2 separate regions of the Homo sapiens genome follow, and region 2 is linked to region 1. Evidence: fine-mapped expression QTL. A gene starts in region 1. The other region holds a variant in brackets. All regions are shown on one strand. Distances are between the middles of the regions. Region 1 holds the start of NT5E (5'-nucleotidase ecto). Region 2 overlaps LINC02535 (long intergenic non-protein coding RNA 2535).

Evidence for each region. PIP is the estimated chance that this variant, and not a neighbour inherited with it, causes the effect. A credible set is the group of variants that fine-mapping cannot tell apart.
Region 2: its variant is the best candidate, but not a certain one, in a credible set for the expression of NT5E in whole blood (TOPMed, PIP 0.55).

What each region holds. Positions count from the first base shown.
Region 1 is chr6:85,447,976-85,453,357 of GRCh38, reverse strand. NT5E (5'-nucleotidase ecto) reads right to left here and starts at 3,275. Exons shown (of 9, transcript NM_002526.4): 1 at 2,880-3,275. The coding sequence starts at 3,218. RefSeq lists a silencer at 3,213-3,482.
Region 2 is chr6:85,390,249-85,395,630 of GRCh38, reverse strand. All of the region lies in intron 3 of LINC02535 (long intergenic non-protein coding RNA 2535), which reads left to right. Among named protein-coding and RNA genes, the nearest start is that of LINC02535, 12 kb to the left of the region's middle. The variant A/G (reference allele first, on the strand shown) is at 3,257.

The DNA of each region.
Region 1 (5,382 bases):
ACTCACTTTCAGTGAGCACCAGCAGGGATTATCTCATGTATTCCTCACAAAACCTCTGCAAGATGGGGGTTATCACTCCTGTTTTACAGCTAAGGAACATGAAGCTCAGAGAAAGTAACCAGGCCAAGCGCATACTGTCAGTGCTTCCATGCTGTCTTCCTCGTGCCTCAGGGGACAACAGTCCTTCCACTGAGACAGCTACACTAACTGGAGAGTTTTGCCATCCTCTTCCCAGTTTTCTGCCTAGTAGTGGTTCCAGGGGGTCTCCAGGATTGCCCTGGGTCCTCTACAGCAATCAGGATTACTCCAGTAGGTCTAGAAAGTGTACACCTCCTTGGAAGTTCCTGCTCGAGGGGACTCCTGTGTTTTAGCTGGATTCTAGGAAATTCCTCTTTGTCCTCCATATGCTTCAGTCCTTTTATGTGGCTCCTTTGAACTAGGTCCAGTCTCCAGGAAACTGGAGATGCCCCTCCACAACTGTTTTCCACCCTGATTTGAATCCCCAGTGTCCTAGGAATCAATATGCGGTGAGTGGTTACAGTGGAGGAACGTTTATACCACAACAGCAATAAATTCTCTGAGGGTTAGTATAATATAAACAATTGACAGTGAAACATCTGTGCAATACTGGAGTACAGCAGAGCTTTAGCACATGCTTTAGCACTACAGAACTGGGATTTTATGCACGTCAAATCATGTTTGACACACCCCCAAACTGCACAGAGTAAGTCCTGAGGACACAGCCATCTAACCTTGCCATGTGATCCGCTCCCAATCTTTACCCCCTGCCAACATTACGTAAGTAGCCTATTTTTCCTCAGAACCCAATTCAATTTTCTTGAGCAAAATTTGAAAGAAAGTAATTTCATCCAACAAAAAGGATTCTGAACAAACACAGAAGAGATAGGCTGTAACTTACAGCAGTTTACTCAGGCCTCACCTAGATGTCCTGTCATAAACATTTGATACCATGATTAACACCAGGAGCTCAACTAGACTTACAAGAGGGAAATATTATTAGGGAAAACTAGGAATTCTTCATTCTTATTTTTCCACTAAAAAGGGTTCACACAATTGTGGAGAAAAGAGTGTCACAAAAAGTAAAGTTTACAAAGTCGTGGTTTATATGCAAAATAAAACAAACACATGTAAGTTTATTCTACCCTTCTGGGAGGAAGTGGAGACACAGGGTAGCAACAACTCAATTCTACAAATATTTATTTTGTCATTACTGAGTGCAAAGTATCAGGGAAGTGTAGCTGTGGAATACCAATGCTTAAGAGACCACAGAGTTCTTGAAACCCACGATTCTTCTTCAAATCCAGATGTGTGTGAGCCCCACCTCATCAACTCTGAAGGCTGAAGGATCAGCTGGAATTTCTGCTGCAGGGTGTCCCTGATAAGCTCAAAAGCATCAGAACGGAGGGAGCTTTCTCCCCTTCTCTCATCTCATTAAAATGAGCTTTCTTGTTGTGGGGGGTTGGGGAGGGACCTTTAAAACCAAACAATGGTGCCCTCTTATCATCTTTTCCTGTCCTCCTTTCTCCAAGTTTCCAGAGGGGAAAATAAAACCAAACAAACCCCTCAGCATTGTGCTCTCCTGACCTCTAAGCTCTTCTCATATAAAGTGTACTGTTAGCCTTCTGTATCCCAGCCTAATCACACTTCCCTTTCCCTTCCACACTTGTGGACTTCACAGATTTCTCTGGACGTTTCTCTGGAGATTTCTCAGTTCTTCCTCTTCCAAAGCTCTTTTTTCTTCTCCCAAGTTTCTCCACAGTCTTGCTGAATCCCTTTACTCAAGGCTTTTACACAGGGTTAAATTTGGGTGGTGGTTTTATTTTTTTTTTAACCACCATATATACATCTTGGTTGTACTTATTTATTACTGTGCAACCACCTCTGCTCCCTTTCTAGAATTTAGTGCAATAGAAAAGGCATTACCTTTAACCTAACATTTGGGACTTTGAACTAAACTTTTGCACATGTTTTAAGAGCCCATTATCTCTTAAGTTGGACTCTTCCTAAATCTCTGCCGCCAAACCTACTTTATTGAAATCCTTTGAAACCCAAGTCTTTCCACATTTTGGCTCTCTCTGAAGTTTCTTTCTTTCTTTCTCTTTCTTTCTTTCTTTCCTTTTCTTAACCCTATATTATAGTGTCTGGTAATAACAACATATATAGACACCACACTATGTGTCTGGTAATAATATAGAGACCACACTATGTGCACTATGTACAATTATAATCCTTATTTTTATACAGGATAGAACTGAGGCAAGAAAGAGTAAATAACTTGCTCAAGGTCACATAGAAGGTAATTGAACAGAGAATCTACCCCAAAGCTGTGAGCTTAATTACTCTCAAGCTCCGGGGTCAAAGAGATCTGGTGTCCATTCTTATCACGTCTCCCTTTTTGCGGGGATGGTGCCTGTTAATTTATTCAGCTTCTTCGACGCGGTTTCCCTTTCAATAAGATTGAGATAAAGCATTTTTCGAAAGATCTAGATTGAGATAAAGCATTCTTTGAAAGATCTAGCAGTAAATGAGAGCTGCGTGAGGGATCCGATTCAGTCCCTAGCTCTGGATAACTGTCAGTGCTTCTACGCACCCCACCTTAAGCCCCTCGCAGGCAGGACTGGGTCCTGCTCCTCTAAATACTCCCATCTCATAGTGGGGGCGCAATAACGTCCGTTTAAGACGAATCGTCCAAGGGACTTCTATGCATCCAGCTGGCACACTGGCCGGAGTCTCACTTTATCCCCACATCTCTCCGCGCCCTGGACCTAGGCTTGCCACACTCTGCCATCCGCTGCTTTTCCAGCCCGGCTCCTCTCTCAGTCCGGGACTACTATCCCGGGCGCGGGCTCGGGTCTTACCATGGCATCGTAGCGCAGGGCGTTCATGAAGTGCGCCACCTCGGCGCCCTTGTACACGGTGAACCAGATAGTGCCCTGGTACTGGTCGCCGGCGTCCAGCAGCAGCACGTTGGGTTCGGCGCGGCGGATCTGCTGAACCTTGGTGAAGAGCCGAGCCACGCCACCCATGCAGCGGCTGGCGTTGACGCACTTGCTGGAGTCCTCGCTGGTCTGCTCCAGCCGGCTGTGCACGTCGTTGGTGTGCAAAATCGTAAGCTCCCAGGCGCCAGCCGCAGGCCACAGCACCGCGCCCAGGGCGAGGAGTAGCGTCGCGGGCGCCCGCGCGGCTCGGGGACACATAGCTGTGGCGCGTGAACTGGGTGCGAAAGCGGGCGAGCCGGGCGAGTGCCGGCGAGTAGGGGCGAGCAGCTAGGGCCGGGGCTCGGTGCCCCGGCTGGAGGGGCGGGGCCCGGGTCAAGGCCGGGGCGGGTCCTTCTTCAGCCTGGAGGCCGGCTTGGCGGCCAGGCGCAAGTTCGCGACGTCACCCGATCCGACCCTGGTACCCGGAGCGGCCCTGGCGCGGCTGTCGGCTGGCACCAGCTCCCTGCAGGAAGAGTGGAGAGGTTGTTCCCGGCGGGGAGCGGGTACCGGCCGCATCCCGGCCGGACCAGGGAGCCTGGGCGCCGGCAGTTCGGCTGCTGGTGCGCCGCTCTTTCGGGGGCGCGAGGAAGGAATTGGAGGGGTCCGCCCCGCGCCTGGGTCCTCTCTGAGTCTCGCCTCATTCGAGGCACGGGTTTTTCTACAAAAGGAATGTATGGTTTGTGGTTGCGCTAGCTCATCACTTCAAAGAACCAAAGAAGGAAAAGAGAGGGGGCGGGAAGAAAGATGAGCGAGCTGAGGGGCAGAGAGGAGGAGTAAAGAGAGGCCGGGCAGAGGAGCTCCTTGCAGTTTCGGGCTGTGAGAGCCGAAGCTCACTGAGATGTGACGCTTCCTGTTGGGTTGAGAACGCACGAAGTCTACGATGCTTAGACAAAAAAATCTCAGAAACTAAGAAATCATTCGAATCCAGTTCCTTGTTTATTCACAATTAAAACCTTAGTGATAAAACAGAGGCGACGCGCGGACAGCTCCTGGAAGCAGAAACACGATTGGGGTAAAATCCGGCAGCTATCAGGACGGGAAGGGATGCTGCCCTTCTTTGCTTTTCTGGTCTTATTTTATTTTATTTTATTTTTATTTTGTCGCGTGTGCTTTCGGTGTCGCAGTGAAGTCATAGCCAAATACAATGTTAGGAAGATTTTCCTCTATGTTTTCTCCTAAGAGTTTTATAATTTAAACTCTTAGACCTTTAATCCATTTTGAGTTAATTTTCATATGTGGTATGAGTCCACATTTACTCTTTTTCATGTGGATATCCAGTTTTCTTAGTACCATTTGTTGAAAAGACATTCTGTGCCCGTTTTTAAGACATTGACCTGAGGTTCGGAGATTGTAAATCATTTGCCAAGAAAGGCCATGCAGTTTGGGAGCAGCAGTGCCTGGGGCTACAGAAGACCCTTGCTTCTGGGACACCCTCTAATGTCATGCTTTGCAAGGTTTTGCTCTGTCCCTCTTTGAGCACCTGCTAGAAGCAGGTAAAAGAACTGGTAGTTTTGCTGTTTTAACTTAAAAAAAGAATGATTTTAGACTTACAGAAAAGTTGCAAAGGTAATAAAGGGAGTTCCCACATACCCATCACCCATATTGCCTTATGTTAACAGCTTATATAACCAATGAAACTAAAAACTTAACAGTGATACGAAACTATTAACTGTGTTACTGATTTTATTTTAATTTCACCAACTGTTCCACTAATGTCCGTTTTCTATTCCAGGACCCAATTCAGGATACCATATTGCAGTTAGTTTTCCTGTGTTCTTAGCCTCCTCTAATCTGTGACAGTTTCTCAGTCAGTTGTCTTCAAAAACCTTGACACTTTTGAACAGTACTGGTTTCTGTATACTATCCCTCAGTTTGGGTTTGTCTGATGTTTTCTCATGATTGGACTGAAGCTGTGGATGTTTAGGAAGAATGCTACAGAGATTATGTGCCTTTCTCATTGCCTGGTATCTGTGGGTACACGGTATCAACATGACCTATCACTGATCACTGGGGAACTGATCATTTGTTGTTTCTTGTCTTTTAAACCTAAGCCACTGCAATAGTTTCTGAAATTCCTGTTCTGGGGATGCTACCAGATTTCTGCTTCAATATCATTTCCATGCCATTTGTTTTCATATACATCTAAAATGGCCTTTGATTGTTTATTGCACCAAGTTCAAGCTTCGCAAACTGGCATTTTGAAGTCTCATTTTATCCAGCCAACTTTACCTTCCACTGTTCCTCACACATTCCCTTTGTCCTCATTTCTTCTCTCCAAACCACCATTTCCAGTCTGTCCTTAGGCCAAGGCCCGGGGTTCCTTTAATTTCTTGTTCAAGTCAACATGAAGTTCCTTTGACTTCTTCACACAGCAGTGAGTTTT
Region 2 (5,382 bases), 58 kb after region 1:
TTCTACTTAGTTTAAAAAATGAAAGAGACTTGAAACAATTCTCCAATCTCCATTGGCAAAATGGAGATGAAGGTGAAAAAAATAAAATAATAGCCAACACTTATTAAATTCTTATGTGGGCTAGCAATTCTTCTAAACAACTTTACTTAGAGGAAGCTAAGGAACAGGAAAAGTGATTTTGCCAAAAGTGGATCTGGGATGAAAGCCAGGCATTTGGGTTCAGAGTGTATGCACCAAACTTCTTTACTTTCTTGCTTCAATTGTAGTAATAAGAGCACTTAACAACTCTTCAGCTGTGCTCTCTGTGGAAGATATTATCTCCCTATTATAGACAAGGACATTGAGTCTTGGAAAAATTAACCAACCAATTAGCTCAAGATCAGACAACACAGATGAAGTAGTCTGGAATTTAGCAGAGGTCTGTGTAATTTCAAAGTCTGTGCTTTGAGTGTTTTGATGCTTAATGTTCAAGGTCAAAGGGTTTACCAAATGGGTTTACAGAAAGAAGTTTCACCTTTCTGTCCCAAGAATTGGCCTTAAAGCACAGTGCCATGGCCAGGAGACCTGGCTAACAGAGCACCTGCAGTCCCAGCGGGCAGCTTCTGTGCATTCCTGTTCAGAGGGTAGGCCAGTCTCAAAGAGATGCTGATGAGTATGGTGTTCCAGGAGGACTGGACTGCCTTGCCACTATTAAGGTCAAGTGCTAAATAAACATCTTGTGAGTTTTACACCTGAGAAATACAAATAAAATCCTAAACCCTCCAACTGACTGAATCCACCCCCTCTTAGCCAAGGAGACCCCAGAGAAGCCTTAAAAACTGAGTTTTGGCCCATTATGGGGGAGGTTGGATATGCTTCATTATACTTTCTCCCTCAGTACCTGCCATTAAACCTTCTTTCCTAAGGATTTAACAGAAACCAGCCATTTCAAAAGACTCAGTGGACTCCCCTCCATTTTTGCAGTTTTGACCCAACAATCAACCAGCATGTTTTCCTGATAAGAGACCACTAACCATGAACTGGTTTTGGCCAGTTTGTGGAGTCTATGTACTGGATGCCTCTGTGTCCTCCATTTCACCTTATAATGTGTATAGCCTAATTTTAATGCATTTAAATGTTAAGTATCCACCAAAAAGTGAACCTCGGATGTATGTGACATGCATGTTAGTTTACTATGCATGCATACATGCATGCCCTCTTTCATGAATATTTATTGCTCCTCCTGTAATCTGATGAATATGTATGCTTAGCCAACCCATTTGGCCTAAATTCCTGTGTCACCATTTCCTCTCTGCTTCTACTGGAGGTTATGCTTCCCAGGCTGTGGATTGTTACCCTGGAGGCTGCAACCTTTTATAAGAAATAAAGTTCTCCTGTCCAAATGTGGAAACCTCATAATTCTTTGGTTGACACAACTCAAGAATATTTCCTCATGGACTTGTGGCAACATTGGTTGACACGCTTCTTCATGTTCCTCATCTTCTCGAAATGTAATCGTCAAAAAAGATAAGGCCTCATCTCTCAGTTTCCTGGGAGAAAATGGGCCTAATTTCAACTCTCCCCGACTTGAAATGGCAAACCCCTACCTCTAGTTATAATGATACAATAAACTTAGGGATTTTTTCTTGAAAACATGAGTGTAATGGATTATATCCACTTTGCTCTATGAAAGATTTCTTTTCACCATTGCAATCTCTCCAGTGAATTGTTCGTGATACGCGTTACGTTCTGGTTTAATGTTTATTCAATAGTAAAATTGTTTTCTTTCTTGATTATGTTTGTGGAGAGGTTTTCTGGGCTGGGAGGGGGTTTTGCTTTTAATTATATTTCCTCAACACTACCTTAGGAAGCTTCTTCTGGGAGATTCCAAAAAGGCAAAGCTGCTTCTGGGAGAGGTCTAGGGAGCAGGGGAGGGGAAGGTACCAGACTCACCAGGAGGGCTTCTAGGATTGATAGATTTGATTAAGGCATTAATTAATTCCAAAAATATTTATTGAGTACTTACTATGTGCCTGGCCCTGTGCTAGAGTCAAAATGTCAGAGAGGTACTTTTCCTAATTATAGCCCGAAGAGAGCATAGTAATTGGAAACACACCTGCCTCCTGGGTGCTTAGGAACAGGAATTGGCTGTGGATTTCCTGCCTGGGAACCTGGGGGCTGTACAAAGAGATAAAGAATTGAAGAACCTAAGATCTCTAAAGGAGGTTTAAGTGTGTCTTGGGATTGGACCTTTAGGGAGGCTTTTAAAGAGAACTGCTTTTTCTAGACTGACATTCTTAGATAGCACAGCTCCTGTGTTGATCATCTTTGCACAGCCAGGCTGTAGCCTAGTGTCTAAGATGTAGGAGGCAGCCTATAAATGGTTGTTGATGAAATAAGTGAAAGAAAGAAAACTTTTCCCTCTGGCAAGGAAAGACTCAGATAAAATTCCCCATGACTTCTAAAGGTGCTCCTGGGCATTACTTTTCATTGTTTTTCCTGGGGATGCTGATTCCTCAGAATGTCGTTGTATTATAGTACATTCCTTAAGGGATATGGTTTTCATTTTCCTGAATGTTGCTCCTTTCTCTCATTTTACCAGCAACTTGTTACTCCCTTTCACTTTCAGACTCTTTTCTCTCTTTCCCTTCTCCTTCAGCAACTTCTCTCCCCATTGAAGTTAGAAGTAAAATGTAACAATTAATCAACCATTTTAATAGGGACTATTTTCCCTTTGGGATATAAGATAATGTCTCTTTATCACACAGGTCATCCTTCACAATGTTTTCTTGCTTTTCAGATGTGCCAGTTAACTGTATTAGTCTATTCTCACATTGCTATGAAGAAATACCATAGACTGGGTAATCTGTAAAGGAAAGAGGTTTGATTGACTCACAGTTCTGCATTGCTGGATAGGCCCCAGGAAACTTACGATCATGGCGGAAGGCAAAGGAGAAACAGGCACCTTCTTCACAGGGCATCAGGATGGAGTGAGTGCAAGCAGGGAAAATGCCAGATGCTTATAAAACCATCAGATCTCATGATAATTCACTCACTATCAGGAGAACAGCATGGGGGAAACCTCCCCTATGATCCAATCACCTCCACGTGGTCCCGCCATTGACATGTGGGGATTATGGGGATTACAATTCATGGTGAGATTTGGGTAGGGACACAGAACAAAACCATATCATTAACCATGGAGGTACATGTATTAGTCTGCCAGGACTGCCATAACAAAGTACTGCAGACTGAATGGCTTAAACAACAGAATTTT[A/G]CTTTCTGAGTTCTGGAGGTTGGAAGCCCATTATCAAGAGTCCAGCAGGGTTGGTTTCCTCTGAGGCTTTTCTTCTTGGCTTGCAGATGGCCACCTTCTCCCTGTTTTCATACAACCTTCCCACTGTATCGCTCTGTGTCCTAATTTTCTCTTTTTATAAGGTCACCAGTCATATTGGATTAGGGCCCACTTTAATCGACTCATTTTAACTTAATTAGCTCTTTAGAACCCTGTCTCCAAACACAGTCACATTCTGCGGTATTGGAGGTTAGAATTTCAACATATGAATTTTAGGGCAACACAATTCAGCCCCTATCAGTATATCTTACAATTTTTTTTTTCTTTTTAAAAATCACTGGTATTTGCTAAGTGGCTGATCACTAGAATTACCTGGAGATATTTAAAAATACAGATTCCTGGCCCCTCCTTAGTAGACTCTCATTTAGTGGGTCTGAAATGGGGCTGGAAATCTTTACGTTTAAAAAATATTTTAAGACCTGGGTATGGTAGTTCACACCAATAGTCCCAGTGATTTGGGAGACTGAGATGGGAGGGTCACTTGATCCCAGGGGTTGGAGGCTGCAGTGAGCTATGATCACACCACTATACTCCAACCTGGGCAACAGAGTAAGACCATGACTCAAAATATAAAACCTTAGATAATTGAGATAATTAGTGAGGTTTGAGAACGACCCTTATAAGGAACTCCTGGCATTATTTATTACCATACTAGGGAAGATCAAATTGAATGAAACAATGGTAGTTGCTCAGAGGAACCTCAGAAAGATTACACCTAGTAAGCACCACTTTGAAACTTTACTGTTTCCTTTTATTTGGTTCCATGTGGTTTTCTGTCTTCTTCATTGCTTTTCATTTCTGCATGTATATATAAGCTCTTAAAGCATCCAACACACTTTGCTCCACATTTATAATTTAATTAGCTGTGTCTATTGGACTTAGGTTCCAAATAATTTCTGACACACATGCTCCTATCTGAAATACAAATATTTATCAGGCATTGAATGTTGTATGAGTGCAGCTGTCATGTTTGATGATGATGACATAAAGAAGAGTGCAATAAGGTCTCTCCCAAGGAGTTCAGGGACTTTCTTTGTTAGATTGTCAAAAGCATTAGCTCTTCATGCTACCATATTATTATTTGAAAGAAAATCTGATTGTTGGAAATTTGTAGTGGGATTGTTGTTCCCCTTTGCTCCATGGAAATTTATCATATTTTTTGGTTGTTTTGACTGTTATGACTGATTTACTAGTGATAACTGAACTCGGGGTCAGTTACCTCAGTTCTATGGCTCTAATGCCTGCTTTGTGGCTGCCATCTTGAGAGACTGGCATAAGTTCCCCAGCATTCTTTCCCTTAGCACAACTTAACCATGACTTAGCACATTCCAAAGGTTTAGCTAAGCATAACTGCCCCTAGATAAGTTTTAATACTTGATTGTAAACAACTTCATCAGTGTGCTTGCAGAATTACAATGAAAGTATGTTTCATTTCAATTGAAGTAAACCCAATGGCAATTGTCAAAATGGGAGATAATATTGCTGTGTGTCCTAAGAAGAGATAATTTAGGCATTTGAACATGAAATGTAATCTCTTGTTTTTTTTTAAAAAGAGATTATGCAAAGGTAAGAATGGGGATCTTTCTTTTTCTAGAAAGTCATTGATCTATGATCCCTTGAGGGTAATATAAAAAAAGTTAATTATAGATTTTAAAATTTGCTTCAGATCTGTTAGAATAAGAAAGTGAGGGAGGCAGAAACAAAGTGGAATGGATTCAGTCATTGAGAGGAGAGGCAGAGTTCAGTTTGCACTGTAAGCTTCAAAGTGTTAGCATAAGCTGTCTACTGCTCTTTGGCTTGTTATTCATTTACTTTTTCTTCCAGTCATTTCTTAAATCATTTATCAAACATTTATGGAGAATTTATCTAGAGTTATAGAGATAAATACAAAGCTATATCTATTCTTAGTCGCAGGGGCTCAAAGTCCTGGGAGAGATGGACACATCAACCAATAGTAATAGCAGGTGTGATGGGTGTATATGGAGATATGCCCAGGGTTACGAAGAGCCTGGAAAATAGATGACCAACCAGCAGGCTGGGTTAGGGTG